Linked DNA regions of Homo sapiens: regions 2, 3, 4, 5 and 6 are each reported to be linked to region 1. Evidence: microRNA targets listed by miRTarBase, many of them from high-throughput screens and not tested one by one. Region 1 holds a microRNA gene; each other region holds the end of a gene's coding sequence.

Region 1 (4,000 bases):
GCCTGGGTGACAGTATGAGACCCTGTCTCTAAAGAAAAAGAAAAAAATATTGCTAAAAAAAAAATTAAACAAAGACATTTGGGAGGGCAACACAGGAGGATCACTTGAGCTCAAGAATTCGAGACCAACCACAGCCATTTTATTCATAATATGCAAAACGTGGAAATGACCCGATGTCTATAAGTTGGTGGATAAAGAGTTTGTGATATTCTATACAATGAATACTACTCAGCAATAAAAACTGTCCAACTGCTAATATACAACATGGATGAATCTCAAAGCATTATGCTAAGTGCAAGAAGCCAGACACAAAAGACTGTATAATGTATGATTCCATTTATATGAAATTCTAGGAAAAGTTAAACTAGAGATCAGTGGTTGCCAGGGACTTGGGGAAGAAGAGGTTGACCACAAAGAGGCACAAAGGAATGTAGGGGTCTCACTCTGTTGCTCAGCCTGGTCTGGAACTACTGGGCTCGAGTGATCTTCCCACCTCAGCCACCCGAGTAGCTAGGTCTACAGGTGCACCACCATGCCTGGCCACAAAGGAGCTTTTTGTAAAGTAACAGAAATGTTCTATATCCTGGCTGTGGTGGTGGTTACATGACTGTATACATTTGTCAAAACTCGTCAGTTCACTGGGCATGCCACACCCCTGTAGTCCAAGCTACTCAGGAGGCTGAAGTGGGAGGATTGCTTGAAGCCAGGAGTTCTAGGCTGTGCTGCATTATGATTGCCTCTGTGAATAGTCGCTGCCCTCCAGCTGGGCAACACAGCAAGACTTCGGCTTTGCTTAACAAATAGCTTACTTACTTTTATTTTATATAATTGTATCTCAATAAAATTCATATTTTTTAAAAGTGATGAATCCACACTATTGTATCTCATAAGAATAAACTGTAAAACAAACACTCTTAGGTTTTAAATTCAACCATTTCCTAGACAATACACAAAATTAACACCAATTAAGATTTGGAGGACTAGGCACAGTGGCTCACACCTATAATCCCAGCACTCTGGGAGGCCAAGGCAAGAGGACTGTTTGAGCCCAGGAGTTCAAGACCAACCTCGGCAACACAGTGAGACCCTGTCTCCACAAAAAATTTCAAGAAAATATTAGCCAGGCATGGTAGGACACGCCTGTGGTCCCAGCTACTTAGGAGGCTGAGGAGGGAGGATTATCTAAGCCCGGGAGTACAAGGCTGCAGTGAGGTGTAACTGGGCCACTGCACTCCAGCCTGGGCAACAGAGAAAGACTCTGTCTCTGGAGAAAAAAAAATGACTTGGGGCAAGTAACTGCAGGAAAAATATACAGCAGAAATTGTTTCCATCACTACCAATTCATCATAAAACTCAAATAAAACCTAAAGTTTGACAGAACCTATCCAAATATGTAACAGAAAGCAACAAATTATAAAGTATTACTCATTTAGACAAACCATAACAACTTAGATATAAAAAATATTCTCCAGACGTGTTTCATAATGCAGTAAAATATTGTTTTTAATTAGTTAAAAGGTTTTTTTTTTTCAAATTATGACTTTCTAAAAGATATACTGTTAGTAACAACATTATAGTTCTCAGCAACAAAGGTTGTGGTAAATTATTTACTGATACCGAAGAAAGATGTAAGGTAAGAATCAAAATTCTGGCGTGCATCCTGCTTTCAGATGCTTTGACAATACTATTGCACTGCTAGCTGTAAAGTACAGTAGTGCAATAAAGTCAGAGCATTCGTTAGCAGTAATAAGTAGGAAAGGAACACAAAAGCATCTTGCATCGGTTGAAGCTTCAGTGAGAAACGAATTTAAAGTAGGGTTGCCATTTTGGACAGAAAAACATCCAAAACCAAAAAACATTTATATCAATGTTTTTTTAAAAAAGGATAAGACTTAAATATCAAAGTGATGTTGCTTATTGATGACTAATATACAAATTAACATTCGAACAGAAACATGCATAGATGTAGAAAGGAATTTTGTAAATATGCCCTAAGCCTTAATAGTAATTAGAATGGGTATTGTTAATACTTTAGGATTGGTATTAACAAAACCAGTTATAATTACTACTAAGGCAAAGTTGTGAAAAATATTTTTGTTCTCTGCAGAGATGTTGGTTAGCTCCTTCTTCAAGGCAATTTACTGATTAAACGCCATGTAAAACAAGCCCTTTGAATAAAAGTATCAAAGAAAACAAATGAAAAGTAAAATAATAAGTTTCTCAATCTCTACATACTCAATCTATCACTCTGGAATCTAAACCACTAAACAAAGAAAACACAAAAGCACTTACCATCTTACAGCTTTTTATCTTGAGTTTACTAAGGGCTGTCATAACAACAGAAGGGAATCAATGTGCTCTAAACAGAACATTAACCCTATCTAACTGAATACTATCCAAGGGGATTTTAAAATTTCAGTTAACTCCTGAAATCTTAAATAGAGGCAGAAAGCATCTCCATTTCCTTCAAACTTAGAAATGTCAAAGAGAAAATAATGATGGGGGGAGGTGGGACTGAGATTTAAGTAACAAGTTTCCTTAGTTCCAAGCTAATTGACATTTTAACTTTTTTAACGGATAAGAACCCAATCAGAAGTCAGATGTAAACCCAGAAACAGAAATAGTATCATAGTATCACACTGCATTACCTTTTGTGTACAGTCACTAGTAGTACCACGAAAGAACAAAGCTAAACAAATACCACCCCATCATTAAGTGAAGGGGAAAAAGTCAGAGAACAAAGATTGCCCTACAATAAGCTTATTCCCCCATTAGTAATGTTGATTGATGCAAAAATATATTTTCATTATTTTCACCAACCTCCCTTTAAACGGTCCAATTCAACTACTTAGTCGGATTGAGCCTACTAAGGAAATGGGCTCATACAAAGGACAGCTGAAATATAAGTGTCTTGGTGTCAAATCCTGGGCCACATAACTAAAATATTAGAATATTTAACGCTGGTAGCCAAGTTTCAGGTTTTAAAGACAACTGTTTAAAAGATAAGTGTTTAACTTTCTGAATTGGAAGTTATTACAAACAAGAAAAATATTTAAAAAATTTAAGGTATTAACAAAATTAGGATAAACACTTTCTTTTCAAATTAAATATTATGCATTTCCTTTTACCTTGACAAATCCTTTATTTAACTGATGTAAAACCAAAAATCAGAAGATAGCACAGGAATCATTTACTCTTAAAATCTTATAAAATAAACTGGTCCACAAGTATAACATTTTTTTCTAGAAGCACATGGTAAATCTGAAGATGAGATGCACTGTCTTTTATTATCTAGTCAACACAAAGCAGTAATAATTAGAGCCATGATAAAAATTCATTTCTAAACCCTAATAATTATGGAAACAAACTAATAACCTGAAAGGAAAAAAAAAAAAGCTACCACTAATTTACTTGCAAGGATGTAAGAAAGGAAAAAAACCTCATTTCTTTTTTTCCTGTCTTCAAAAAGAATTTAAATACTACCCCATCATTCAAACAATACCTAAAAGTTTAAATGTCTGGCTACCTTATAATTTTCTAAAACCTACTTTTTCAAAATGTTTACTTCATCATTGTTCACTTAAAAGAGAATTTGTTCAATCTAAAGAAGTCCTGTGAGAATACTGACTCTACTGTAAAAGCCAGACGAAGTTTAAAAATTAGAAACAGCCAATTTGAGAAGCAAACAACCTGTTAAAAGCAGAATTAGCATCATTTAGCAGAAATGAATTATGAATTTAAGCAGAAATATCTATATCAGTAGGGAGGAATTCAGAATGGGAGAAGGGCAAGATAGTCTTAACATTTAAGCCTGTTGACAGAATCAAATTACAATGCTTAACATTTTGTTTTTTTTAAATGATAATAAAACTTAAAACTAAAAGTTCATTATTACAGGTTTGAAAATCTGCAGGAAATTCTTCCTTCTTCCCTCCCATTTCTCCCTACACTTCTCCAACCCCACACACACTGCACAAAGAAAATTTAAACACAAAATGCT
Region 2 (5,240 bases), not on the chromosome of region 1:
GGAACTCTTTTCTAGATCACTACTAGACAGCTTTTGAGTCACAACAGGTATGTTACCCTGTTACTAATAATACAGAGCAGCACAGTGCAGTCATCCCTCACCACCAAGGTTTTTATTCCAAAACAGTTATTTGGCTAGACGTGAACCGTTAAGATACGGGATCAATGGAGTTACAATAAAGACAATGAAAGTGACAATTTATTAATACACAGTAAGTTCTAGAAGGCATCTTTCAAAACAAAACTTGATTTCTTTTGTATTTACATTTTTTGTTTCAAGTCTTAGCAAAATGCTAAAAGGCCTGGCCTAGTCACAATTACTGACATCCTTCTGGGACACAATTTTCTGGGCCTGTGTTGAATGAGGATAAATTATCTTTTCTCTAAAATGCCACATGAACCCTCTCTATATTCCCACATGAAGAGGAATGGAAGGTAATTATTTGGTCTTTTCTTCTGTTTAGGGGAATGAACTGAACCACTCATTTTTTTAAAATCACACTTAAAAGACACATGGGCAAAAAAGTTCCCCAAAACTACTGTCTTACCGAATTTGAGAAGGGAGGTAATGTATGAAGCTTAACAGCTGGCTTCAAAAGACACCTTTCCAAAGAAATTGTACTACCTCTATTAACGTGTAAACCACCAACCAAAAAAAAATAATAAGTTACTCCATCAAACACGTTATTATCCATAAAAAAGACTTCAACATTGTACTGGAAGATCTATTTAAGCATAAATAGTACTAAGCACCAATTACTAATCTGAAGGCCTCCTCACAGGTCCAAGGGCAATGAGCAACCTCAAGAGGCAGGTGACTGCACAAGCAGTAAGCTATGGATTAAAAATTAAAAGGATTTCACATTCTTTCCAAAGTGTACTGCCCGGTGTCTGGCACACGCATGTTACAATATGACAATCTGCTCTATTTGTGAGCACCTGAGTGTATTACAGGGGATTACACATGCATATGATAGAATCTGGCTCCCGGTACAGTCAAAGGAGAACAGCATCAGCCACCAAATGTGCTGATCTTACACTGAAAAGGGTTGACTGAAAACATTTCAAGGGTAATGTAAACACAAGAATAAAGCTGTGGGTCTATTACTTAGTGATGTGGTTTTATATGCTACATACGTAGACCTCTCTTTATACAATGAATATGGACAGTGCTGCAATAAAAACTGATGACACGTCAAATTGTTCACCTGAAGAAAAACCCTATTATAGTTCAGAAAATAATGCAACCAATTTTAATTTAATCTAGATACAGGTACTTTATTTACAAATATTTAGATTAATAGCATTTTGTTACATCAAATGAAGAGTACAGCAGTCTGAATAAATCCTTCAGTCACAAAAACAATAAAACCCACTGTAACTAACTTTGGGAGTCAGGGTATTGCACCTCAACAAGCCGCAGTCTTTAGTTTGTGATTGCTACCTTATATCCCAATGGGTGGTTTGTTTGTTTTGTTTTTGTAAATATACACACACACCAGCAGGTCATGGTCCCTGGGTGAGTCCCTTGTGATGCAACAGTGTAAGCAAAATGGATCACTGTAAGTCTTTAACAGAATATACCAATCTACTCCAGAAATCTTATTTTTTAAAAAGTTAAACAAAGACAAAAATAAAAATGAATCCACAAATTAACCAAAGCCTACTTTCTGCACATTCCAGTTTTGGCTTTTATTTAACATTGACTATACAATACTCTGGTACTACCACATGTTTACAACCCAGAAAGATGTACTTTTATGTTAGTGTCTGTAAAGAGGGATTTAAAATGTGTATTTTAAACACAGCAGTTGAGCTGAGTGCATTTTCTATAGTACGCTGAGGTGTTACCTATTCTATTTCAAATAAATTCTCAATTCCCAGCCACTGAATCATAAATGCAATAAAAAAAATCAACAGAAATGAAGAACTTAATAAAACATGTTGTCCAAAAAAATAAGATTGTTTCTCTTGCTATACAGTATTAATTCAGTGGCCAAACCACCTGGTGCAAAGTAATAACTTACTTTGTATCAGCACAAGCGCTGAAACACCTTTAGAAACACTTTCCCTTTTACAAAACAATTTATGCCAACATGACATAAAACAGCCCCTCACACTGTGAACACAGGGATATCTTAAGTTATTTCACTGTAGGGTTAAAAATGCACAATTTAAAATCCCTTAACAGCAGACCTGTGGTTCTGACTGTCCAGTTCAGAATCTGACCATTCCAAGAAGATAAAGGTATAAAAGCTTAAAATGTGCAATAGTAAACCCAGCCTTTTTTCTTTTTCTATACAGTAAGGCAAGAATGCAGCCTGTAATGCAAAAACGTTTACAAAAAGAGAAAAGCAGGTTAGCACATTGTCGATTGCACAAGAACAGTTAAGAAAATCAGCAGGTAAGCAACAGTGCAAAGATGGAACAGAATCTGCTAGTGTTAATCCTCTGATGCTAGGAGCTCTTTCCAGCATAATGTCCCCAAACACTGCCAGCACCAAGGGGTGGAGCCAGTACTACTTGTGAACTGCAGTTGTGTCTATTTCTTTGTGTGAAATGGAAGGGAGTAACATGGTCACATATAGGTCATACTGTACAAACTGGTATTTTATACTGTTCCAATGCCAGTAATCAATTTATTTTCTTCATTAAAATAATATACACAGAATGTATTGTTAGTTCGATTCCTTCAAATTTTATACATATTTACTTTCTGTTAAAGAGAAAAGGATAAAATGGTATAAAAAAAGATAAAGCTATTAATTAAGCACGAGAGAGAAGATAAATGGATATTTTCCCTGTGTGAGGCTAAGACAGAAGCAAATCTCGTTAAGAAAAATGCCACCCACACAACAGGAAATTTATCCAAAACAAAACAAAAGCAGTTATAGAACCCCTTCTCTACCATCAGAAGTAATTTCACAGCAATAAACTTATTGGTTACAACAGACATACTTGAACAGTTAAGGATGGGAAGAAAGGCTTAAGATATCACCAAATTAAACCGTACAGTGAGACAAAGCCTTGCCAAAGGGAGGGTAAAAATCATGAAGTCCAGCATCAGTGCTCGGTTTAAATCATATATTGGTGACATACTTATCACGAGGACAAGGGGGAAAAAAAGTCTAGATTTACCATGCAGGAGAGATTTATTACTCTACTTGCCTTTGATAACCTGATTACATCTAGTTGTTTAGCAGTTTAGTATTGTGTTAAACTGTTTTTACAACAGAGTTTTTTCTTTTTTTTTAATTAAACCCAGTAAGATGTACAGAAGACAATGAGGCAGTAAAAAGTACTGCTTCCAACAGACAGAGGTGAAAGGTCAAATGAGGGGCCACAGCAAAGAGGTCACTAGCAGCCACAGCCTTCTCTCTGGGGTTGGGGTTCACTGGTTAGCCGGCCTCCCTGCGGGGCTGAAGGTTTGTGTTGTACACCAGACTCAGCAGCATTCAGATCCAAGCTTCCATCCTGAATGTTCTGATAGATTTTCTTGGCAGCCTCAAGGAAGGCATCTTCTACATTCTCTCCCCTAAGAGGCAATTGATAACTTTATTGGAGAACCACAGTTTTCTACAAAAGACAAGACACTGACCTTTTGCTAATCTTTAGTTAACTGCCATGATGTCTCCAACTTAACCACTGTCATCTAATAAGAGATTACCAGAACACTGAGCTAAGAGAACATGGAAAACTATTTTCCTTTTTTTTTTTTTTTTTTTTTTGAGACAGAGACTCACTCTGTCACCAGGCTGGAGTGCAGTGGCCCGATCTCAGCTCACTGCAACCTCCACCTCCCAAGTTCAAGCGATTCTCCTGCTTCAGCCTCCCGAGTAGCTGGGACTACAGGAGCACACCACCACGCCCAGCTAATTTTTGTATTTTTAGTAAAGACAGGGTTTCACCATGTTGGCCAGGGTGGTCTCGATCTCCTGACCTCGTGATCCGCCTGCCTTGGCTTCCCAAAGTGCTGGGATTACAGGTATGAGCCACCACACCCGGCCGGAAAACTACTTTCTATGGAAAGCATACATACATACGTGTACTGAAAGCCCTTTCTACAAACCCTATTTGGACAACTACATGTGTTATATGCAATCATTAAAATACTGTATGTTAATACACACCATGACAATTCAGATAGGTCATTTCTGTGATAACAGAGAGGATACTCCAAACAGAAATGAAATCTCTCTGAACATGCTGAAAAAAATTCCAAGAATAATATGGTCTGCTCAGCCAAGCATGAACTGAGCTGTTTTTAATCGGGTAATGGTGACATAATCATGCTTAGCCACGTTAACACCTCCATTCAGTTTTCTTTGGACTAATAGCACAGCTGAGACTAAACGAAAACAGGTTAGCCTCTCCTCACCACAAGAAATTTTTGGCCTAATAAATGAAGAACAATGATGGGTGTACCACAGTTCAATAGCAGACATGGAAGAACAATTAGAAAATGTTCACTATGCTTCTGAGTAGACACTATTCCCTTAAATCATGCTTTTTAATGTGATCAGAAGTATTACAGGAAGAACAGATTGACCAAGCTTGTCTGAGATGCCAAACTCAACCTCACTTGTGAAAAGTCAAACACTGTCATTTGGGAAAAGTCAAACACTTTTGAAATGTAAACAAAGTTTCATTTATTAACCTGGGTTACCAACAGGCATAATCAAGGTACAATCTTTTAAGTAACAAAAATTCATATTATTTTGAAATGTAAAAAAGGAAGCAAAGAGATGTTTGCTGTTCTTCCTGCAGTAAGCATTACACATTTATAGATAGTACTTTATATGTGTATATACATTATATACTTTTCATATATACGGTTCTACTTTGAGAAACTTGAATATAATTGAAATATCTGTATTTTGGTCACACTTACGTTTTTGCACTCGCTTCGAGGAACAATAAGCCTAAAAATAAAATTCAGACTATAATTAGGACACTTCAAACTAACTCACAAGTGCACTTCTTTAGTAACATCTGAAAAAGTTTCCCATCAGTTTTTAGTACTCCTCCCATAGTATTTTATGAAAAAGTATGTAAGTTTGAGGTGGAGAGCATCTTTATATTTGTCACTAAATAACTGTACTGCTCCAACATAAATCACACAGAAATAGAAACACATTGTTACTTCCTCATTCTTGAGATTTCTGAGTCTGCATTTAAAAAAAAAATGCAAAAAAAAACCAACAAAACTGTCAAGCCCACCTTTCCTTAAAAATTCTCCCA
Region 3 (5,240 bases), not on the chromosome of region 1:
GGGAGACCCCGTCTCTACAAAAAAAAAAAAAAATTTATATATAGTCAAACAAGTTATTTCATCTCTTAAGGCAAAGAGCTCTCTGTCTGTGGTTCAACACATTGTTATCCATTGGGCAAAAATGATCATTGCCATGCTCTGATAGTTTTAAAATGATCAGACAGGAAATTCATTATATTGCAAACTGGTGTTCAGAAATGTTAGGATTTTCAGTATTTTTATTTTCCAAACATTATTTTAAAAGAACATTAAAAGCATTAGAAATACAAATCTTGCCTAATGGTTAACATACGAACAATTATTATAAAATGTTTAAAATACGTCACATACTTTGCATCACAGTAAGCATCAAGAGAACTAATTAACATATCCTGATAATTAATCATATTCAACTGAATTCTCATTACTTTTAGTTCTCATTTTAGCCCTTATGAAGAGATAAGTTATATATTTCTACCTCCACCTGTATCATCATGACACCTTTATTATGATAACACAGGTAGAAGTAGACATATATAACTTACGAAGAAAGAAGTTATGTCTCTATAGATATAGAGATATAGATACGGACGGGGGCTATGAATCGAGCCCACTATGTATTTCATGCAATTTATAACAATAATTTTTTTAACTTTTCTTTTGGAGATTATTTTTTGATGAGCATAAAGAGACAATACCTCATATGCACCTGCTTAGTTTTCTTTGTGCTGTAATTTTTACCTCCCAATGATGGGCCTCATGCCAGTCAAATCATCTCAAACTCAAACGTCACACAGAAAACCTGCCATTTTAAATTTTATAAATAGAAATTACTTTTGTGTTAATATTTTATTGTATCACATTTGAAATGCCTAGCCAATTTTTGTATTTTTAATAGAGACAAGGTTTTTTGCATAGCCAAAAAAATAGATATATGCCTTTAAAAATGTGATGCTTGATTAATGTTGTCTTCATTATAAAGCTGTTTGGCACACTGGGGTAAATACCAGGTTTTGAATTAAGACAAAAATCTAATTCCTAATTTGCCACAATTCTTTGTACGATCTTGGGAAAGAATATTAGATTTCTTAATTCTTTGTTAAAAAGAGATAATAGGCCAGTGCACTGGCTCACGCCTGTAATCCCAGTACTTAGGTAGGCCGAGGTGGGTGGATCACAAGGTCAGAAGTTTGAGACCAGCCTGGCTAACTTGGTGAAACCTTGTCTCTATTAAAAATACAAAAATTAGCTGGGAGTGGTGGTGCGTGCCTGTAGTCCCAGCTACTCGGGAGGCTGACACAGGAGAATCGCTTGAACCTGGGAGGCGGAGGTTGCAGTGAGCCGAGATTGTGCCACCGCACTCCATCCTGGGCAACAAGCATGAGACTCCATCTTAAAAAAAAGAAAAGGGAAAAAGGGAAGGAGGGAGGGAGAAAGGGAAAGAAGGAGGGAGTAGGTAGGCAAATCAGTCTAAAAGGTGAACTTAAAAACAAAATAATTCGAGGCTGCCCCTGGGTGTGGCAAGAAAAAAATTTAGAAGAAAAAGAAAACAAAAGAAAATCTATGCCTATTTAAATCTCAAAAATAGAAATAACTGATCAATACTGAAAGGTAACAGTTATAAGATAAGGTTGAGCAGAGTTCTAATTGAATATCTATTCTGTCTTCTCTATACCTCTCATGACCCCTGTATTTGGGGAGAGCTGAGGGAGGAAACTATAAATTAAATGCCTTTCAGCTGGATGTGGTTTCTCATGCCTGTAATCCTAGCACTTTGGGAGGCCGAGGTGGGTGGATTACTTGAGGCCAGGAATTCAAGACCAGCCTGGCTATCATGGTGAAACCCTGTCTCTACCAAAAATACAAAAATTAGCCAGGAGTGGTGGCGGGCACCTGTAATCCCAGCTACTCTGGAGGCTGAGGCAAGACAATCGCTTGAACCCGGGAAGCGGAGGTTGCAGCGATCTGAGATCATGCCACTGCACTTTAGCCTGGGTGACAGAGTAAGACTCTGTTTCTACAAAAAAAAAAAAAGACTTTTACGCAAAGGAACAAAGTACCTTCCAATCTGCAATAATAACTCTTGAATATAACAATTTATAAAGATAGGTGTTGTATATTGATGCTCATCTTGTGTGTCTAACATTTAAAAACCTAGTGAGTTCAAATACTAACTGTATACTGAAAATATTTTTACAATAAAATATGAGTTCACAGTTGTTATGCTAGGAATCTCAGAGCATATAGTAAAATTAGTTTCAGGTATAGAAATACTTAAATCTATTTTTTCTTTCTGCCCATTTCCACTTTAAGATTAATGGGAGAGAAATAAAATGATTAGTTTGAAAATAGATTATCTTGAGAATTTTTCTACCATAATAATAAATAAAGACAAAAAAGAAGTCATTTCTAAATAGTTACTTGAATACTGTCAGGTGGTTAGTAAACTCTTCTCACACAGAAGGAAAACATAAATCAAAACATTCCCAGTCTTATCTGTAAACCTTGTTAAGCAATAATAAATATTGCCCAATGCATGACAGGAGTCCACACTGTTTTCCACAGAACACCGAGATGATTACCGCAGTGCCTTCTCTCCTGGGAACAGTGCACCTCTACCATAGATGCAGTCCTCTTCACTAGGCTTCTTGAATAAGATCATTCAGAAACAATTCACTTTTGGGCCAGTTGGGGTGGCTCATGCCTGTAATCCCAGCACTTCGGGAGGCCGAGGCAGGCAGATCACCTGAGGTCAGGAGTTCAAGACAAGTTCAAGACCTGTCTCTACTAAAAAATACAAAAATGAGCTGGGCATGGTGGCACACGCCTGTAATCCCAGCTACTCAGGAGGCTGAGGCAGGAGAATCACTTGAGCCCGGGAGGCGCAGGTTGCAGTGAGCAGAGATCATGCCACTGCACTCCAGCCTGGGCAACAGAGCAAGACTCCCTCTCAGGAAAAAAATAAATAAATAAATAATTCACTTTTAACAAGCAAAAATATATTTCTTTTCTTTCTTTCTTTCTCTTTTTTTCATTTTTTTGAGATGACATCTCGCTCTTGTCACCCAGGCTGGAGTGCAATGGCACGATCTCAGCTCACTGCAACCTGTCTCCCAGGTTCAAGCGATTCTCTTGCCTCAACCTCCCGAGTAGCTGGGATTACAGGTGCTTGCCACCATGCCTTGCTAATTTTTGTGTTTTTAGTAGAGACGGGGTTTCATCATGTTGGCCAGGCTGGTCTCGAACTCCTGACCCTCAGGTGATCCACCCGCCTCAGCCTCCCAAAGTGCTGGGATTACAGGTGTGAGCCACCATGCCCGGCCCAAATATATTTCTTTTCAAAAGAATTGTAAACCTACTCAACTGACATAAAACATGTCTATAATAAGAAATGGCAATAATCATAATACTATATTCTTAGTTGACTGTCCTATGAAAGAAAAGTACCTAATACCTGTGTGAGTGTTTTTGGTAAAGACAGAGTTATCACCTTTTCTGCCTTAAGAATATATATATTTCTGGCTAAGCACAGTGGCTCATGCCTGTAATCCCAGCACTTTGGGAGGCCGAGGCAGGCGGATCACCTAAGGTCAGGAGTTGAAGACCAGCCTGACCAACACAGAGAAACCCTGTCTCTAATAAAAATACAAAAATTAGCCGGGCATGGTGGCATGCGCCTGTAATCCCAGCTACTTGGGAGGCTGAGACAGGAGAATCACTTGAACCCGGGAGGTGGAGGTTGCGGTGAGCCGAGGTCATGCCATTGCACTCCAGCCTGGGCAACAAGAGTGAAACTCCGTCTCAAAAAAAAAAAAAAAAAAAAAAAAAAAAAAAGAATATATACATTTCCTTTAGAGACAGGGTCTTGCTGTGTTGCCCAGGCTGGACTCATAATCCCGGGCTCAAGTGATCCTCCTGCCTCAGCCTCCCAAGTAGCTAGGACTACAGGTGCATGCCACTGCACCCAGCTAACAATATATTATTTATTCAAATCAACCTGCTACCAACAAGGTGTAGTGTTCCCGATTTCAACACTTCAAAAAATCAAAATTTACAATTCAATTAATAAAAATAACACCTCAGCAAAAATCATATTTTCACATTCTTTAAAAAAAATCCAGTCAATACCTTATTTTGAAGTCACATAACACTGACTCAAATCATGATAATCGGTTGACTTTCTACTTTAACACAGTAGCTTCATTCCTGGCATCTATTTAAAGGCTCGGTACAAAAGACTGAGGCAAAGAGCAGGGTAAAAAATCTAAAACTTTCACATCAAATCTTAAGATGTCAACAAACTACAAAGCAAATCAACAGATACTGACACATCAGATGAAAGAAAACCATAACTGCCAACTTTTCAGTTGAATCTTGTAGGTTTTGATCCGCCACTGATCTCAAGTTAGAATAAAGTCCATTACTATCAGAAACAAAAACTGTTTACATAAGATCCTATAGCCTCCATGACTTTAAACGGAGGGGACTGGAATCTGCTTGGCTGAAGTGCTGTCATATTCCTGCACTAAGTCATTAGTGGTGTGATAATGCATGGCAATATATGAATTGGCAAATCCAAAAGAGTTTACTGGCTGTAAGTTACATGGGCTGCTCTCCTCCTGGGAAGGGCTGCTGTTATAGATGCTGTAGTAAGGTTCAATCCGAGTGTTGATGGGGGTCGAGCTGCTCTGACCACAGTGTTGATGTCCAGCAGAGATCTTGGGACTCACCATACTTTCTTTTGAATGACTTGGGCCACAAGCCTGGTCCACAAATTTCTTCTGTGGCTTTGGAGATAACATGTAGGCAGAGTTTGTTTCATGATGGGAGGATTTGTTTCTGTTGACTTCGAGGTTCCCTTTTCCCATGGCTCGAAGTCGAGTCTTTTGTTTGCAGCAGAAAAAACCCAGGCCTATGTATTGGAGGCACCAGAGCACTTTCCTTCTCAGCCCTGCACTGTTCCGAGAATATATAAAAGGGTTTAATCCTGACTTGAAAAATATAAGAGTAAATCCAAACAATTCAAACTGGTAAAGAATGAAGCTCCCATTGCTGGAGAGAACCACCTGTACCAAGGAAATCCCCAGTGGAAGACAGCACACCAGGACTGACAGCACAATGATCACACAGGTGACCACGGCTTTGGAATCCTTGGCAGTGGAGAGGTTGATGGCTGATACGAGCTGGAGTCGGCTTGCTGCAGGGGTGACCAGTTGGTTGGGACTCTTGGTATATCCACGGGTCTGAACGTGCTGCAGTTT
Region 4 (5,240 bases), not on the chromosome of region 1:
TTAGCAGAATGTGATGGTGCACAGCTGTAATCCCAGCTTCTTGGGTGGCTGAGGCACAAGAATCACTTGAACCTGGGGGGTGGAGGTTGCAGTGAGCTGAGATGCTGAGATCACGCCACTGCACTCTAGCCTGGGTGACAGAGAGAGACTCTGTCTATCTAGAAAAAAATATTTTTAAAAGTGGGATGAAGTCGAGGCTGGGGTGCAGCTGCACCTGGGGGAAGGGACCAGAAGCAGGGGTTGCCGTTTCTTGTCTCGGCAGCCCACGTGGCAGTGGCTGCTTTCTTGTCTTGTCTGCAGACTGTTCCTCAGACTGGGAAATGTGGCCATGGCAGATTGGAAGGTACCTGCTCCAGGCCCAGCCAGCCAGGGAGACTACTGAATTCCAGGGAGAGGGACTTGTCAGATCAGCTAGGCTTGGGTCTAGCGCCTGCCCTGGCACCAATAAGAGGTGACAACTGCGGGCACAGTGCTAAGACAGTCACCAGGTGGCCTTGAGAGAGTTGTTGGAAACTGGGAGACCCTTGCTAATGGAGAGCTGCTGGAATGAGTTTGGCAATGCAAAGCTAGGCGCACAGGTGCTGTTCCATATCCTTCCATGGACCATAGTTGCAGCTGGGTGAGCTGTCAGCTCCAGCCTCACTACAACAAGGGATATTGGCTGGGGACCCTGCCCTCAGCCCCATGGCACTCCCCTTTCTTGTGCACTCAGCTTGGTGGATTCCAACTGCAAGTACCTGCAACTCTGCCTCAGGGAACGGCCTCCACACTGGACTGATGGGAGGGAGTAGCTAGACTCCCTGGCTCCTGCCCCTGGCAGTGGGACCAAATCTGAATTGCATCCTACATTGACTTCCAGAGCTCTCCAGGGGCACTGAGGTCCAGCTGCCCACAGCAGGGACCTGTTGATGACACACTTTGCCTGGCTGCCCTCCTCCCCTACCCTCCTCCCCATCTTGCCTCCACACTCCCCTCCTCCCCTACCCTCCGCCCCATCTTGCCTCCACACTCCCCTCCTGGCGTTACCTGGATCACTGCACTGCTTTCTACCTTTCTACCTTTTCTCTGGGTTTGCTTCTGGGGACCCGACTCAAGACCCTTGTAGTCTTTTTTTTTTTTTTTTCTGAGACTGAGTCTGGCTCTGTTGCCCAGGGTGGAGTGCAGTGGTGTGATCTTGGCTCACTGCAAGCTCCACCTCCCGGGTTCATGCCATTCTCCTGCTTCAGCCTCCCAAGTAGCTGGGACTACAGTCGCCCGCCACCACCCTCGGCTAATTTTTTGTATTTTTAGTAGAGACAGGGTTTCACCATGTTAGCCAGGACGGTCTCGATCTCCTGACCTCGTGATCTGCCCGCCTCGGCCTCCCAAAGTGCTGGGATTACAGGTATCAGCCACCCTGCCTGGCTGACCCTTGTAGCCTTAACAGCTAGGTTTCCCAGAGGAGAGGTGAGGAGCCTTTGAAAAATAAGAGCATAGGCCAGAAACGGTCACTCACACCTATAATCCCAACCAACACTTTGGGAGGCCGAGGCGGGAAGGATTGCTTGAGCCCAGGAGTTTGAGACCAGCCTGGGCAACATAGGAGATTCCATCTCTACAAAAACAAAAAAATTAACCAGGCCTGGTGGGGCATGCGTGCATGACAGAGTGAGATCCTGTCTCAAAAAAAAAAAGATAAGAGCATACGCTTTTCCATTCAATTGTACCTTTTTTCTTTAAAAATAGAGCTCTTTATTTAAACAGTTTAGGGTAATACCAACAAGCAGTAGGATATCGTTTAAATATGACATAAACATAGAAAAAATAGAAATAAATACAAATACATAAGAACAACATATACCGTTAGTAGTCTAAAGGGATACATGTTGCTTTCACCTAAGGCACTAACACTTTTCACGGGATATGCTTCCAGCGCAGGCCCAGCCCACACCGCGCAGTTCCCACCTGCTGTGCACGTGAAAGGGCTTTGTAAACAGTTAAGTGCTGACCACACAAGGCAAATTATTATACTGATTATCATGCCCTTTCCAAATGCTTCTCCTGGCTTTTTGTGAATGACTTAATGACGATAAAGGAGATGGAGTTTAGAGTTACTGGAAAACTTAAGCTATGTCAGAAATTAAACTCTGGAAAAAATTCTTTAAAAAAATAGTAAGGTTTGGCTGGGCGCGGTGGCTCACGCCTGTAATCCCAGCACTTTGGGAGGCCGAGGCGGGCGGATCACCTGAGGTCAGGAGTTCGAGACCAGCCTGGCCAACATGGTGAAACCCCGTCTCTACTAAAAATACAAAAAAATTAGCCAGGTGTGGTGGCGGGTGCCTGTAATCCCAGCTACTTGGGAGGCTGAGGCAGGAGAATCACTTGAACCCGGGAGGTGGAGGTTGCAGTGAGCCGAGATTGTACCACTGCACTCCAGCCTAGGCAAAAAGAACAAAACTCCGACTCAAAAAAACAAAACAAAACAAAAATGGTAAGGTTTAAGAATAGAAACGGAGTGGTTATTTCATACAAGTCTAAGATGATGCTGATGATAGCTTTTACTTTTTTGAAGTTACCTCCACGAAGCAGCTCGGCTGGTGCCAGAGAGAACATCGGTACAGGTCTGGGAATTTCCCTGGGAGCTGGCCCCAAGCCACAGCCCTCCCCAGCTCCGTAGTTTGTTTGTTCTTCCTCTCCTGGGCTCAATCATCTGGACAAGCCTCACTGCAGGGAAAACCCCTGGGGAGACACAGGTGTGTGTCGTATGTGTGTATGCATGTGTGTGTGTGTGCCCCAGCAGCGGTGAAGGCCTCCTGACCCTTAGAAATCCTGGCTGTGACCTTCATATTTTACTGACATGGACAAGGGGTCAGAGGTTGGCCCGGCTGTGCAGAGATCGAAGCTCTTACCCTTGGGGATGTGCACAAGTCATCAGAGCAGCACTGCTGGGCGACCTTGGACAAGTGCCTTTGCCACCCTTGACCTCAGCTCCTTTGCAACAAAAGGAGTGGTTTGCTAACTTTTTCTTGAGTAGTGGATCCCTCTAAACAAAACCTCACGTGGAAAGCCACAGTGTGTGAATCAGGGCACAGTGAGGCTGCTCTGGTGAAAGTGGGAGGCTCCTATAGCCCCATGGCGCCCCCTGCAACTGCAGCCCAAGGCCTCTGGGGGACATGGTTTGAGAATCCCTGGATGAGATGCCCTAAGAAGCTTTTCCAGTTCTGCCATTTAATGCTGTACCCTTGTGGTGGCTTTAAAGCAACACAGCTCTGTGGGTTCAATGGCTTTGAAGATCCCTTCTTCACAAATCCAGAAATGTTAGTCCTGGCAGGTTGAATGGCCACAGAGCCAAGGTTGTTCAGATACTCCACCACAAAACACTTCGGTCCTACGGGTGAAAACTCAGCTACGCTCATCTATATTCAGGTGGGTGTAGGTTAACTGAGGATGCATCAGCACCCCCAGGTAAGGATAGTCACCTGAATCTAGAAGGCATTGGTTTCTCATAACTGGAAGGGAGAATGGGACTTCTAAGGACCACAACGGTCAACCAAGAGTCTAACGTGCCATCCAAACTGGGATTACAGGCCCAGAAGTCCGATTCCTGCCATGTTACTGTCCTACTCCAACAAACTGGGTCCCTAGAAGGTGGAGCAGTTGGTTCCTCCCCTGGGAAGCAGGGTTCCCATTGCTAGGTGAAGGCGGAGAGACCAGGGTCCCCTTGGGTGGGGCTCTGGCTTCTGAGAGCTCACTCTCCTGACTGGGAGGCAGTGAGGGTAGAAGGAAGGAGGTAGACTGGGGATGAGACAAGCTGAATGTTAAGTGCTCTCAGTCACTCTGGGTTTAGGGGCCACAGGTGGGAGATGCCCAGGGGTCTCCTGGAGCCTGGATAGATGGAGAATTCTACCGGCCACCACGTAGAGAGCACCCAGGACACAGCAGGCTCCGTGCTACACACATCTGAGATCCCCTAGAACCCTCACCACACCCAGGCGTAGCTGCAGATGAGGAAGCCGAGGCAGAGAAGGAAGATGTCTTCCCCAAGATCATACAACCAGTGAACAGCAGAGCTGGGATTTGAACCCCGGTCTGTCTGACACTAAAACCGTACAGTGCCATGACTCCAAAGACCAGGATTTGAGGACAGCCACCCTTCCCTTCCCATCCAAAACCCTCAGCCAACTGGATTTTTATCTGGGCCTAACTAGGGGACCCATGAATCAGGAGGCTGAGCCCTGGGATGGGGGAGTTCAGTGGCTGCTGGGAAAGGCATGAGGTATAGCAGGTGTGCCTCCAGTGGTCTCAAGTTCCAGAGGGCCCCTTGGTGGTGTCCGCCCTTGATGTCCGCAGTGACCTGACCTCACCTGTTTCATGTTGTCCGGGGATAATTTTTCCCCCTGGCCTGTCACCCTAGGGACAATGGGGGTGATGACACCCCACCAACCTCTGACCTCAGCCCACCCTGTGTCCACCCCTCTTATAGCTCAGCCTAAAGAGGGCGGGTCACAGGAGGGAGGGGCATCTTGTTGCTCAGCCCGACAGGCAAACAGCCGCTAGGTGGACTTCCCGGAAGTGCAATGCCCCTCCGCCGCCCAGGGGAGGTACGGAGGCTCTTGAGTTTCTTGGGAAGCCCAGTAGTCCTTGCAAAGGCAGCAGCAGCATCAGATTCGGTGGGATGTCGGGGGACAGCTCACCTGGCCATGTAATGCCCCAATGTCCGGCCCCTGTCCTCGGTCCTCTGGGTGCTCTCAGCCCCCCAGCTGCCCGCATCGCTGTCCTCAATTTCTGATTCCCTCGCCTCCTCTTCCTCCTCAGGGCTGCTTTCCCAGCAGAAGGTCAGTGTCTGAAGAGAAACTGGGGGTCCCCCAGGGACCAGATTCGGCTCCGGTGGTAAGGTGCCCCAGGTGGCCCAGGAGGAGAGGTTATCTTCTGGGAGCTCTTCCAGGAAACCCGAGTCCTTGGAGAATTCAGGTGGTGGGAGAGATTCTTGGTGCCCATCCCCACCCGGCCCTTGGCCTGGCCCCTTCTCAGCCAAATAGCCAGAGGACCCAGCCCTGTCCCAGGAGGAGTCCACAGTGCTGGCCCAGCTTCTGTCTGAAGAATCCCAAGCAGAGGAGCCTTCGCTTGGGACCAGAGGAGCCCTGGGCCTCCCTGAGTCCACCCCACCAGCCTCCGAGTGCCCTGGAGCCTGGTGCTCTTGCCCCAGGAAAGAAGGTGGTTCAATGTAGGGCTGGAAGCTGACGCCATCTTCTGTGTCCTCC
Region 5 (5,240 bases), not on the chromosome of region 1:
TGCACACACATGGTGGGGCAAGTACTCAGGCTGGGGAAAGAACCATCACAAAGGATTAGAGGGGAAATCCTTACAGTTTACAGAGGTAGGAATAATACCTGCTACCACCCACCAGAATGGAAAACCTCTGAATTCACAGGGCATCAGGTACACAAAGGATTTTGATTTAGGAGTCGGAAAAAACACTAGCCCTAACAAGTTGAAAAGAAAGATCCAAAAGTATCCAACTGGTTCTAAGTAACTTAATCCCCTCCCAAGACAAAACTCGAGAATATTTATAGGAACACAAAACATCCAGTACCCAATAAGGTAAAATTCACAATGTCCAACAATATCTTTAGTCTCGTTATGTTGCCCAGGCTGGTCTCAAACTCCTCGACTCGAGAGATCCACCCAACCTCAGCCTCCCAAAGTGTTGGGATTACAGGTGTGCACCTCTGCACCCAAGGTAACATTATTTTCTTAGGGTATGTTAGAACTCACCTGTAAGTCCATCTGGGGCTGATGTTTCTTTGTGGGAAGATTTTAAACTCCTTATGGAACTTGTTTAATCAGCCAAAATACTCCTAAAGAATTTGGTTGAGGGAATTGAGCCTCTTGCCCTAACAATCAGTAGGGCTTACTAATTTACAATGATGACAGTGTGGGACTGGCACAGGAACAAAAGAAATGACAGATGGAACAAACGTCTGAGCCCAGAAACACTCATACTCTATATATAGAGAAAGACCTGTGGGAAATTACTGAAGAAAAGAACTATTCAATAAATGGGGGTTAAATAACTGATTATCTACGGGGTGGGGGAGGAGGGGAGGAATTAGATACCTTACCTCTTGCACACATATACACAATTCTCAGTAAACACCTAAACATGAGAAGCAAAATTGTCAGCAGTGACAACACGCAAATTTTACAGCACAGGCAAATGAATGGCAAATGAACATGAAAAATTACTGATCTAAGGTCAGGAAAGGAGGTCAAGAAAACACAAATTAAAATTATGAGATACTTTTTTATATATGCTACATTAACAATAAAAACATTGCAAAGGGAAGTAATACTCAAGAGAATATCATCATTTTGGAAAATACCTGGCATTATTTTGCAAAACTTGACAAGCCAACAACTCCACTCTTACGCATAAAGTCTCTTGCATATGTGTACCAGGGGACAGTCAAGGATGTTTTGAGTGTACTGTTTCTACCAACAAAAACTAAAAACAAATGTCAACTGATAGGAAAATGAACACTTAAATTGTGGTATACTCACACAGAATACTATAGAGCAAGTAAACCATCCATGCATATAAGCGCAAGAATGAATTTTAAACATAAACTCAAAAAAGCAAGTTGAGTAAGACTTCACATTCAGACACTATATGTAGAAAGCTTCAAAAAATGAAACAGTATGTTTGGAGAACATACATGTGTGATTAAAAAATGGCAAGGAACAATAAAAAATGACATGGGGAAAGAGGTAAGAAAATAGGAAGAACATACATATAGGTAATTGGCAGCTTTCCATGTCTTTAGGTGTGATGAGTTTTTAAGTGTTGTTATTCATCATACCTTACAAGTAATATATAATTTTATCTATATATCAATCATTACACAATATAAAAAAAATCTTTAGAAGATGCCTATCTCCTAATGAGTCAGTGAATGGTGGGAAAAGTCCATTTTCTATAGACTAAGGCAGCACACTTTTTCTGCAAAGGGCCAGAGAGTGAATAAGTTAGGCTTGTGGACCATATACTCTCTGATGCAACTATTCAACTCTCACGTTGAACTAGACAGCAGCCATAGCCAATATGTAAACAAATGGGTACAGCTATGCTCCAATAAAACGTTATTTATGAAAACAGGTGGACATCTGGATTTAGCCCATGGAGGATATTTGCTGACCTCTGGTCAAAGCTAACTGTTTAAAGTTTATGTTCCATTATTTGCCATTCCATTTCTTTTTAAATTTTTATGGGTACATGGTAGGTGTATATATTTATGGGATACATGAGATATTTTGATACAGGTATGCGATTTATAATAATTACATCAGGGTGTATCTACTGCTTCAAGCATTCATTTGTGTTACAAACGTCCCAATTACACTCTTTTATTTTTAAATGTATAAAGTTATTGTTGACTGTAGTCACCCTGTTGGGCTATCAAATACTACAACAAATTCGTTCTAACTATATTTTCGTACCCATTAATCAACCTCACTTCCCTCCCCATCCCTTCAATGCCTCCCAGCCTCTGGTAACCATCATTCTACTCTCTATCTCCTTAAGTTTGATTATTGTAATTTTTAGCTCCCACAAATGAGAATATATGAAGTGCCATTCCATTTCTTAAACAAAGCATAGACTGTCTGTAAGCTATTTACCACTTCACTTTTATTTCCATTTTAACAACTAGTACATTATCCTTGGCCTTAGGAAAAGCCTCCATCAGTTCTATGTGTTCCCAAAATATAAGCTCATGTGATAACGAGGTCAGGCAATTCAGTTTTTTAATTCATAAAGTGCATTCTTCAGACAGCTTCAAATAATGTCTAATTAAGTAGCCACTAGAAGATCAGAAATTATTAGAATGGACTACAGCTATGAAAACTAATACCAATCTCTTAAATTCAATAAACAAAAATTAAATACCATTAGGTATTTAGTTACATAGTTTTTTAGCCTATGTAAGTAAATAGGGCTGTGAATAGTCTGCCTTCTGCCAAAGTGGAAACCATAATGCCTATCCACCATGGATTACGTCTAAGGTTTTCATATTCTTTACCCTGATTATGAATAGAACCTTTCCTTTTTAATAACTTGTCTTTTAATATAAATTCCAATGACCGAATCCCAGAATAAAAATGTTTACCATTAGTAAACTCAATTGTTTATATATATTTTTTTTACAAGTTTTAACCTTTTGGAAAAACAGAAGCAGATATGATAAAATAATTTCTTGAAGTACTTTTTTAATCCAATTAAGCTGATAATAATCACTTCGAATTTTAATACAATACAATCATGTTCCCAAATTTCCTAGGCTCATAACAATACAGTCTCAATACAAAAGACGTAATAATCTATTTTTATTTATTTTAAATCAAAGAGACCATTCCATTTCCTAACAAACAGGTAAGTTACAAAAGTAGTCCATTTTACTTTTCATCAGTCTTTCCCTGTTTTGAACAAGTTTTTTTGAGAATTCTTAGTTTTAGTTTTTGTTTAGCTTACACACTGAAAATTTTGAGAAGCATCTAAAAAAATCCACAATTAGTGCAAAAAGAGGGGACAATACTTTAAGTCATTCCTTCTATAAAAAGAATTAAGGTTACTAAATGCCAATTTTTAAGCAAATATATAGTTTCCTATTTGCCTTCTGAAAGACAGCAGATATAAAAATAGTTCAATATTAGGTTTAACAAGGTTTGAACAACACATGTACTATCAGCTTTATTTTACCTGCAAAAATATTTTAGCTACACTTGGAAAAAAATAAACTTGAGAATATAACTTCACATTTCTAAGGCCAGATGCAAGAATACTTATTCTTTTCCTTTTAAATAGAAGACATGCCATAAAATTTATGAAAGTTAATTTGTAGGAATGAATACATTTAAAAAATACTGGTTAATCTGTGAGGAATTCCACATTTGCCTATTTAACAAAATTTCATCCATTTCATAAGGCTTTGGTATAAGTGATTCCCAGCACTTCATCATTTATCTTTCTTCTTTGCCTCCTTTACTTCCTTCGTCTGCTCATCCTTCTCCCCTCTCACGTTGACATTTGCTGCTCCTTCTTGATTTTCCCTCTGAGAATTATCAACTATCTGATAGTCCTCAAGGAGAGTGTGTCCTGTTTGTGTTGCAGTTTTCTTCACCATTGCTTTGATACCAATGTTGTTAATATTGTAGGCAGTTACGCCAACATTGACCGCAGAATCCACCGCATGGTGGGTAGCTTCTCCTGCATTATATCCGTATCTTTAAAAGAAAGATTAGAGGACATACAATGAAACAATAAATATAAAATAAGGTCTTCTGAATTAGTATTAAATAAGTCAAATGATTACTGTGTTACCCCTGAAAGCAAAATTAAAGCTTAGGTTTCAATTTAATTAATAACTTAAAACACAGTAGAGAATGAAATCACACTCTGTGACAAAGCAGTATTTTCTCCTTTAGTAAAAACAGTGTGTGAAAATAAACTCAGACTAGCTGAGAATGATGTAATAAAGACTGTCAAGTAAAAATAAAAGTGTAAATTATAATACAGGTCATTAATCAGTCATTATTTCTTTTTTTAATCCTCCCTTTCTAGAAATATGAGGGAAAATATTCACAGAAGCAACTAATCTAGAGTCACGTAAGTAGTTTCAAGTTCTACCTTAACCAGACTTTGGCTATGTCTTTTAATTATGGGAATTTGAGTTAATCTTTAAACAGAGATTCTATGGCATTCTCCCCTGCATCCCACTCTACTGCACACTCACTGGCCTCCTTGCTGTTCCTTGAGCCCACCAAGCACTCAAAGGCCTTAGGACCTTTGTACTGGCTGCTCTCTGCTTGGACTTCCCATAGCTCTCTGCCTCACCTTCTTCAAGTTGGCTCAACTATAATCTCATTATCTAACCTGTTTAAATTGCCTTTTTCCACATGCCCACCTCCACCTCTTGACAATCGATTCCCCTTTACACTGCTTTTTTTCTCCCATTACTTACCACTTTCTACATACTATAGAACTTATTAATTATCACTGTTCATGTCTTGCTTCTCTCACTAGAATGTAAACCCTATTGGAGAGGAGAATCTTACCTTTGTCCTTTAACATATCCTAAACATTGAGAATAGTACCTGATATTCAATGAATATTCACTGAATGAATGAAATCAGTAATTCCTGCCCTATCTGCCTCAGAGTTTTTTGAGCATCAAATGCATAGCAAGTGCTTGGGAAATTATAAAGCATATACAAAAGAAGTTATTATTGATAATAATAATATCTGCATTTAATACTATTTCTATGATAAAATACAATTTGAGGTCCTATACAGGCACACCAAAACACATTTCCCTACTGTTTTGTTTTACTCTTTACCCCATTTTGGTAACAGGCTTTTAAAGCTTTTCTTGTCCACAGATTTCCCCCAAATAGAGGACTGTTTAAACAACAAACAAAACAAAGAGGCAAAAGTTTACATTTTCTCCAGGACACAGTGAAGTTTCCTAGATGCTTTA
Region 6 (5,240 bases), not on the chromosome of region 1:
AAGGTCTTCATGCTGCCCAAGGCCCTGGCTCTGGGCCTCATCATCACCTGCTCGTCGCCTGGCGGCGGGGGGAGCTACCTCTTCAGCCTCCTTCTTGGAGGGGACGTCACCCTGGCCATCTCCATGACTTTCCTCTCTACGGTGGCTGCCACTGGCTTCTTGCCTCTGTCTTCGGCCATCTACAGCCGCCTGCTCAGCATCCATGAGACGCTCCACGTGCCCATCTCCAAGATCCTGGGGACCCTGCTGTTCATTGCCATCCCCATAGCCGTGGGCGTGCTGATCAAGTCCAAGCTCCCCAAGTTCTCCCAGCTGCTGCTGCAGGTCGTCAAGCCCTTCAGCTTTGTGCTCCTCCTGGGCGGCCTCTTCCTGGCCTATCGCATGGGGGTCTTCATCCTGGCAGGCATCCGGCTACCCATCGTACTGGTGGGTATCACGGTGCCCCTGGTTGGCCTGTTGGTGGGCTACTGCCTAGCCACGTGTCTGAAGCTGCCAGTGGCCCAGCGGCGGACGGTCAGCATTGAGGTAGGGGTGCAGAACAGCCTGCTGGCCTTGGCCATGCTGCAGCTATCCCTCCGCCGCCTTCAAGCTGACTATGCCTCCCAGGCCCCCTTCATTGTGGCGCTGAGCGGCACCTCCGAGATGCTGGCCTTGGTCATTGGCCACTTCATCTACAGCAGCCTGTTCCCAGTTCCCTGAGGCCTCTGGGTCAAGCTTTCATCAGCCCCAGCCCCCACACTCCACCAAAGTTCTCATGCACTATGCACTCAGAAAAATCCAGGCTTATTTTTTTTACTGATTTTTTATTCTCCAGCTTTCAGTGCCAAAGAGGCCATGCTGAGTTAGGTAGGTGGGCGCTGCCCAGAAAATATATTTCAATAAAAGAGAGAAGCAAGCTTGGGTCCCTTCTACTCTTTGCCCTTTGGGGCCTGGGCGTGGGGGTAGAAAGAGTGTGCTGGGTAAGTGTGGACCAGGGTGGAGGGCCAGCTTGGGTGACACGGTGACCCCTGCATAGGCTTTCCCTATCAGCCCTCCCCGGGGGTGTCCCCACTCTGGGAGAGGTGGGAGGATGAGGGCAGAGGCGTAGCCCCCCTGCCCCCTCTCAAGCTCAGTGGAGCGTTTCGCAGCCAGACCAGAAAGGAGGAGGTAGGAAGCCACCAGACAGGGAGCGGGGGCGGGCCGTCTGTGGGTATGCAGGGCCAGGCGCCGCCAGCAGTCCTGGCGCGTGAGGTGGGCCAGGCAGTCCGCGGGGGCGAGCGTACCTTCTGGCCCTCCCTTCTCCATGTCCCAGCTCCCAGATGACGCCAACCTGGCCCGACTGGTTCCTGCTCCCAACTCCCCCGCGTCGTTGCTTTGGGAGGGGTCCGCCGGCCAGGGCGGTCGATGCGCGCATGCTAGGCGGGACCCCGGGGGGACTCCTCCCGGGGCGCAATTGGGCCGGGGGGCGGGGCCGGGGCGCGGACGGGGCAGGAGGGCGGGGCCGGGAAGCGCGGGCGGCGGGCGCGCCCCTCTCGCTGCTTCCGGCGGCGGCGGGCGGTTCCAGCGCGCGCCCGGGGCGGCGGCGCGCGGCGGGGGGTGGTTGGGGTGCGCGCCGGCCCGAGTGGACGCCGTCGCGACCGCCATGCAGCTGACGGTGAAGGCGCTGCAGGGCCGCGAGTGCAGCCTGCAGGTAGGGTCCCCGGGCCGGGCCGCCGGGTCCGGCGCGCTCTCTCGCCCGCTCCTGGCAGGGGGACCGGCAGGGCCGAGGGCGGGCACGGGGCGGCCGGGCCGAGGGCCGGGAGCCGGGAGAGCTGCCCTCGGGGGCGGACGCGTGGGCTTCGCCGTCTGGGGGCCGCGGGCTCAACCCTTGCCTCCCACCCTCCGCGCGGCCAGGTGCCAGAGGACGAGCTGGTGTCCACGCTGAAGCAGCTGGTCTCCGAGAAGCTGAACGTCCCAGTGCGCCAGCAGCGGCTGCTGTTCAAGGGCAAGGCCCTGGCAGGTACCCAGGGAGAGGAGACGCCCGGGGAGCCCCGCAGGAAGCGGGACCGGGGTGCGCGGGCCGAGGCCAGCAGCCGTGTGTCGGGTCGGGGTGCGGGCGCCAAGCGCCACATGACCCCAAGGGAGGCGGCCGCATGCCTCACAGCCGGATGCCGCAGCGCTCCGCTCCCGCCGCCCGAGGCGGCCTCGCGCCCCGGGCCACCCCCACGGCGGTGGAGGAGGAGGAACCCATCGATCTGTCTTTGGCAGATGGGAAACGACTCTCGGATTATAGCATCGGGCCCAACTCCAAGCTCAACCTAGTGGTCAAACCCCTGGAGAAGGTGCTACTAGAAGAAGGCGAGGCCCAGAGGCTGGCCGACTCCCCACCCCCGCAGGTCTGGCAGCTGATCTCCAAAGTCTTGGCCCGCCACTTCAGTGCGGCAGATGCCAGCAGGGTCCTGGAACAGCTACAGAGGGTGAGAAGGGTAACCCTGGGCATCCTCTTCAGGCCCAGTTGCTCCCAGCCCCTACCTCTGTTGCAGTGTATGCCCCCCCACCACTGGCAGCCCCTGAATCTTCCTGCCCTTCTCTCCCCAGGATTACGAGAGGTCCCTGAGTCGCCTGACGCTGGACGACATCGAACGGTTGGCCAGCCGCTTCCTGCACCCTGAAGTGACTGAGACAATGGAGAAGGGCTTCTCCAAATAGAATTCTCGGAGCATGGGGAGGTGCCCAACGCCAGGCTACCGCTGCATGTCGCACTAAGTGTGTTCTCCTGTTGCAGTTGGGCTCATCATCATCATAGCTGGCATGTACCTGGCTCTGGCCAGGTGCTAGGCACTCCTCACAGCTTGACCTGGGTTTGCTTCCACACCCTCAGAAGAGGAGAGCCGGCACAGCAGAGGCACCGGCGATGAAGTGGCACAGCCCCAGTCGGAATCCAGCGGCTTCTGAAAGTGCCTTGGTGTGAGAAGGAGGAAGGGGCCGCTTGGAGAGCTGGGCTCTCGCATGTCATGTTTAGCCCACTGAGAATATACCCTCAGGTGACTCCCTCCCGATCCTGAAAGGGAAAGCAGCTGTCACCTGACTTCTGGCGGGTCCAACATAGCCCTCAGCTTACCTCTGCAGGAGGCCAAGTGACAGCCAGCCCTGGAACCCCCCGACCCCCGCAGCTGCTGCAGCCAGTGTGCCAGTGTGCGTTCGACAAATGGAAAAGCAGATTGGGGCCAGGGAGTCAGCAAGGCACCCCAGCTCTGTGATGTGACTTTGGGCGAGTCTCAGTGCCACTTGGTCCCCAGCCATGGACTCTATACAGTGAGGGCCACTCACCGACCTGAGTCAGTGTCCTCTGTCTCACAGGGCCCCTCTCCCTTCTGTTCAGTAAACAAACTGAAGCCAAAAATGAAGCCGTGGCCAAGTGTGACCCAGAGATGGGGTGTCCTGGCCCTTAGTGACACAGCTCCTCTCTGGGGCACCCTATCTGCTTGTCTCGTCCAGGAAGCGTTAGGGCTGATGGGTGACTCAGCAAGGCAGTGTCAGAGCTGGGACTGGGCGTAGGCCTTTGTCCTCATCCCCAGCACTGGCCTCCCTGTGGAAGATGAACATATCCCAGCCACCTGTGTACAGGGGCTCACTTTGTGTGCTCCTTGTTGCCTGAGAAGAAACCTTGGGGTGCCAGGGTGGGGGCAGAAGCATGGACTGGGTTCCGGTTCATCCTCCTCCACCCTGCCGTGTGTGTGGGCACAAGAGGACATCTAACCACCTGCTCCTTGGAGGAGGCCCCCAGGGGTGGTAGAGGCTGGAAGGAAGCCACATCAGGAGGACGCCACTCCGGCCCTTCACCCTTGCCAAGTGAGCTGCTCACAGTGTGGTCAGGGCTGCGCGTGCTGGAGGCCCTCCTGCCTGGGCCTTGTGGGGCAAATATTGGGTCCCCAGGCTGGAAAGATGGACAGAGGCCCAATGGGTGAAGGCTTTGAAGAGCACACAGAAGCCCCTGGCCCCCCACGAGAGCTGGAGAGCCATGTATATGGCTTCAAAGCCACCTACGGCAGGGACACACTCGTGAGCATGTGTGGCCTGCAGTTCAGGTGATACATTTACCAGTGTTCTTGTTTGTGTGGTGCCAGGAAATTGATTTTGGAAAAAGTGAAATAACATTAAAGGTGAATGTGAGGCTTCTACTTTTATCCAAAAGGAGCTATATTAGCTAGGCTGTTTCTGATATCCAATCATTGGTTTAACAATAAAGGCAATTTGTTTAATCAGTTAACGGAAATTTCTTGGCTTATGAAAGTGAAAAGTCCAGTGGTATTGGCATTGGCAGCAGGTGAGCAATTTCACCCAGTGTCTTCTGCCTCCCTCTGCGTTGGTATCTGCTACATCCCAGGCCACCACCTCCGAGGATGAAAAGATGGCTGCCTGCAGCTTCCACGGAATCCCTCCCTCACTGCCAGAGCAGCATCTTCTCTGTGTACCACCTCTGCTGTCTCAGATGCCCCCAGCAAATAAACACTCTTCTCGTTGGTCAGAACTGGATTGTGCGTCCAATCATTTTGGCTGGGGTAGGGGGTAATTCTCCGTCAGGGCTGGCTCCCTGGAGCTAGGCATGGGGCCACTTCCCTGGACACACATGGGCTATGCAAGGGACAGAAGGCTCTGGGGGAGGGCTGGATGAATGGATATCCTCAATGGTGGCCGCAAATGGCAGCTGTCCACTACAGGGGCCATGCATGTGTCAGATCAGGGCCACCTCGCAGGTAGTGGAGGAGAGGGCTGGAGGCGTCAAGATCACACAGGGAAAGCGTTTTCTGAGGCTTGGGTTAGGGAAAGCACCAGAGAGAGGAAACACTGCAGGGATGGGAGACAGGAAGTGGGGGGATCGTTAGAGGACACTGGGGATTCTGCATGAAGATGGAGCAGCCACAGGCTGCAGCCCCCCCAATGCTGAGATCCTTTAACAGGGGTCAGAATGTTTACTGCAGGTGCTGCGCCCCTCTGAGCCAATTGTCCGCCCTGAGAGGTAGCACCGAGTCATCCACTGCCCCCTGCCCGGTGAAGGGCCCTGAGACCCACCACCTGCCCCTCAGGGAGGGGCCTCGGGACAGTATCTGAGTCCTGCGGCCATGGTGTGACTACAATGACATCAGGAGATAGCAGCATGAGTGAAGGGCCCAGCTGGGATGAGGTGCTTTTGGTGTCGTTTCCCAAGGGCCCACGGGAGGAAGAGCGGCCTCAGAGGACAGCAGCATTTGCCTTGGGGTGGGGAGGTTCCCTGGCAATGG

Evidence for each region. Region 1 holds the annotated microRNA hsa-miR-301a-3p (CAGUGCAAUAGUAUUGUCAAAGC, at 1,673-1,695, opposite strand). A microRNA usually pairs through its seed, bases 2 to 8, with sites in the 3' UTR of a target mRNA and lowers its output. Matches are read on the target gene's strand: a 7mer-m8 pairs with bases 2 to 8, a 7mer-A1 pairs with bases 2 to 7 and ends in A, and an 8mer does both.
Region 2: the mRNA of RAB14 is a reported target of hsa-miR-301a-3p. Seed matches in the 3' UTR shown: 7mer-m8 at 2,413-2,419.
Region 3: miRTarBase lists GPR75 as a target of hsa-miR-301a-3p. The part of its 3' UTR that is shown has no 7-base or 8-base seed match.
Region 4: the mRNA of IFNLR1 is a reported target of hsa-miR-301a-3p. Seed matches in the 3' UTR shown: 7mer-m8 at 4,551-4,557.
Region 5: miRTarBase lists SPART as a target of hsa-miR-301a-3p. Seed matches in the 3' UTR shown: 8mer at 3,276-3,283.
Region 6: the mRNA of SLC10A3 is a reported target of hsa-miR-301a-3p. Seed matches in the 3' UTR shown: 7mer-A1 at 756-762.

Annotation. Positions count from the first base shown.
Region 1 is chr17:59,149,477-59,153,476 of GRCh38, forward strand. MIR301A (microRNA 301a) reads right to left here and starts at 1,745; the gene lies at 1,660-1,745. All of the region lies in intron 1 of SKA2 (spindle and kinetochore associated complex subunit 2), which reads right to left. RefSeq lists a silencer at 624-703.
Region 2 is chr9:121,178,040-121,183,279 of GRCh38, forward strand. It overlaps RAB14 (RAB14, member RAS oncogene family), which reads right to left. Exons shown (of 8, transcript NM_016322.4): 7 at 4,891-4,921; 8 at 94-3,534. The coding sequence ends at 3,357. Among named protein-coding and RNA genes, the nearest start is that of RAB14, 21 kb to the right of the region's middle.
Region 3 is chr2:53,848,683-53,853,922 of GRCh38, forward strand. It overlaps GPR75 (G protein-coupled receptor 75), which reads right to left. Exons shown (of 2, transcript NM_006794.4): 2 at 4,230-5,240. The coding sequence ends at 4,452. All of the region lies in intron 1 of GPR75-ASB3 (GPR75-ASB3 readthrough), which reads right to left. MIR3682 (microRNA 3682) reads right to left here and starts at 523; the gene lies at 440-523.
Region 4 is chr1:24,152,461-24,157,700 of GRCh38, forward strand. It overlaps IFNLR1 (interferon lambda receptor 1), which reads right to left. Exons shown (of 7, transcript NM_170743.4): 7 at 1,708-5,240. The coding sequence ends at 4,670. LOC124903879 (a long non-coding RNA gene) reads left to right here. Exons shown (of 3, transcript XR_007065544.1): 2 at 2,552-2,732; 3 at 4,795-5,240. Among named protein-coding and RNA genes, the nearest start is that of IL22RA1, 12 kb to the left of the region's middle. RefSeq lists enhancers at 437-1,034, 1,035-1,632, 1,633-2,230.
Region 5 is chr13:36,300,646-36,305,885 of GRCh38, forward strand. SPART (spartin) reads right to left here. Exons shown (of 9, transcript NM_015087.5): 9 at 993-3,987. The coding sequence ends at 3,720. Among named protein-coding and RNA genes, the nearest start is that of CCDC169-SOHLH2, 5.5 kb to the left of the region's middle.
Region 6 is chrX:154,482,966-154,488,205 of GRCh38, reverse strand. It overlaps SLC10A3 (solute carrier family 10 member 3), which reads left to right. Exons shown (of 2, transcript NM_019848.5): 2 at 1-895. The coding sequence ends at 699. UBL4A (ubiquitin like 4A) reads left to right here and starts at 1,591. Exons shown (of 4, transcript NM_014235.5): 1 at 1,591-1,669; 2 at 1,873-1,978; 3 at 2,227-2,435; 4 at 2,557-4,489. The coding sequence starts at 1,622. The coding sequence ends at 2,667. RefSeq lists enhancers at 988-1,047, 1,385-2,143, 2,144-2,902 and silencers at 1,308-1,567, 2,058-2,207.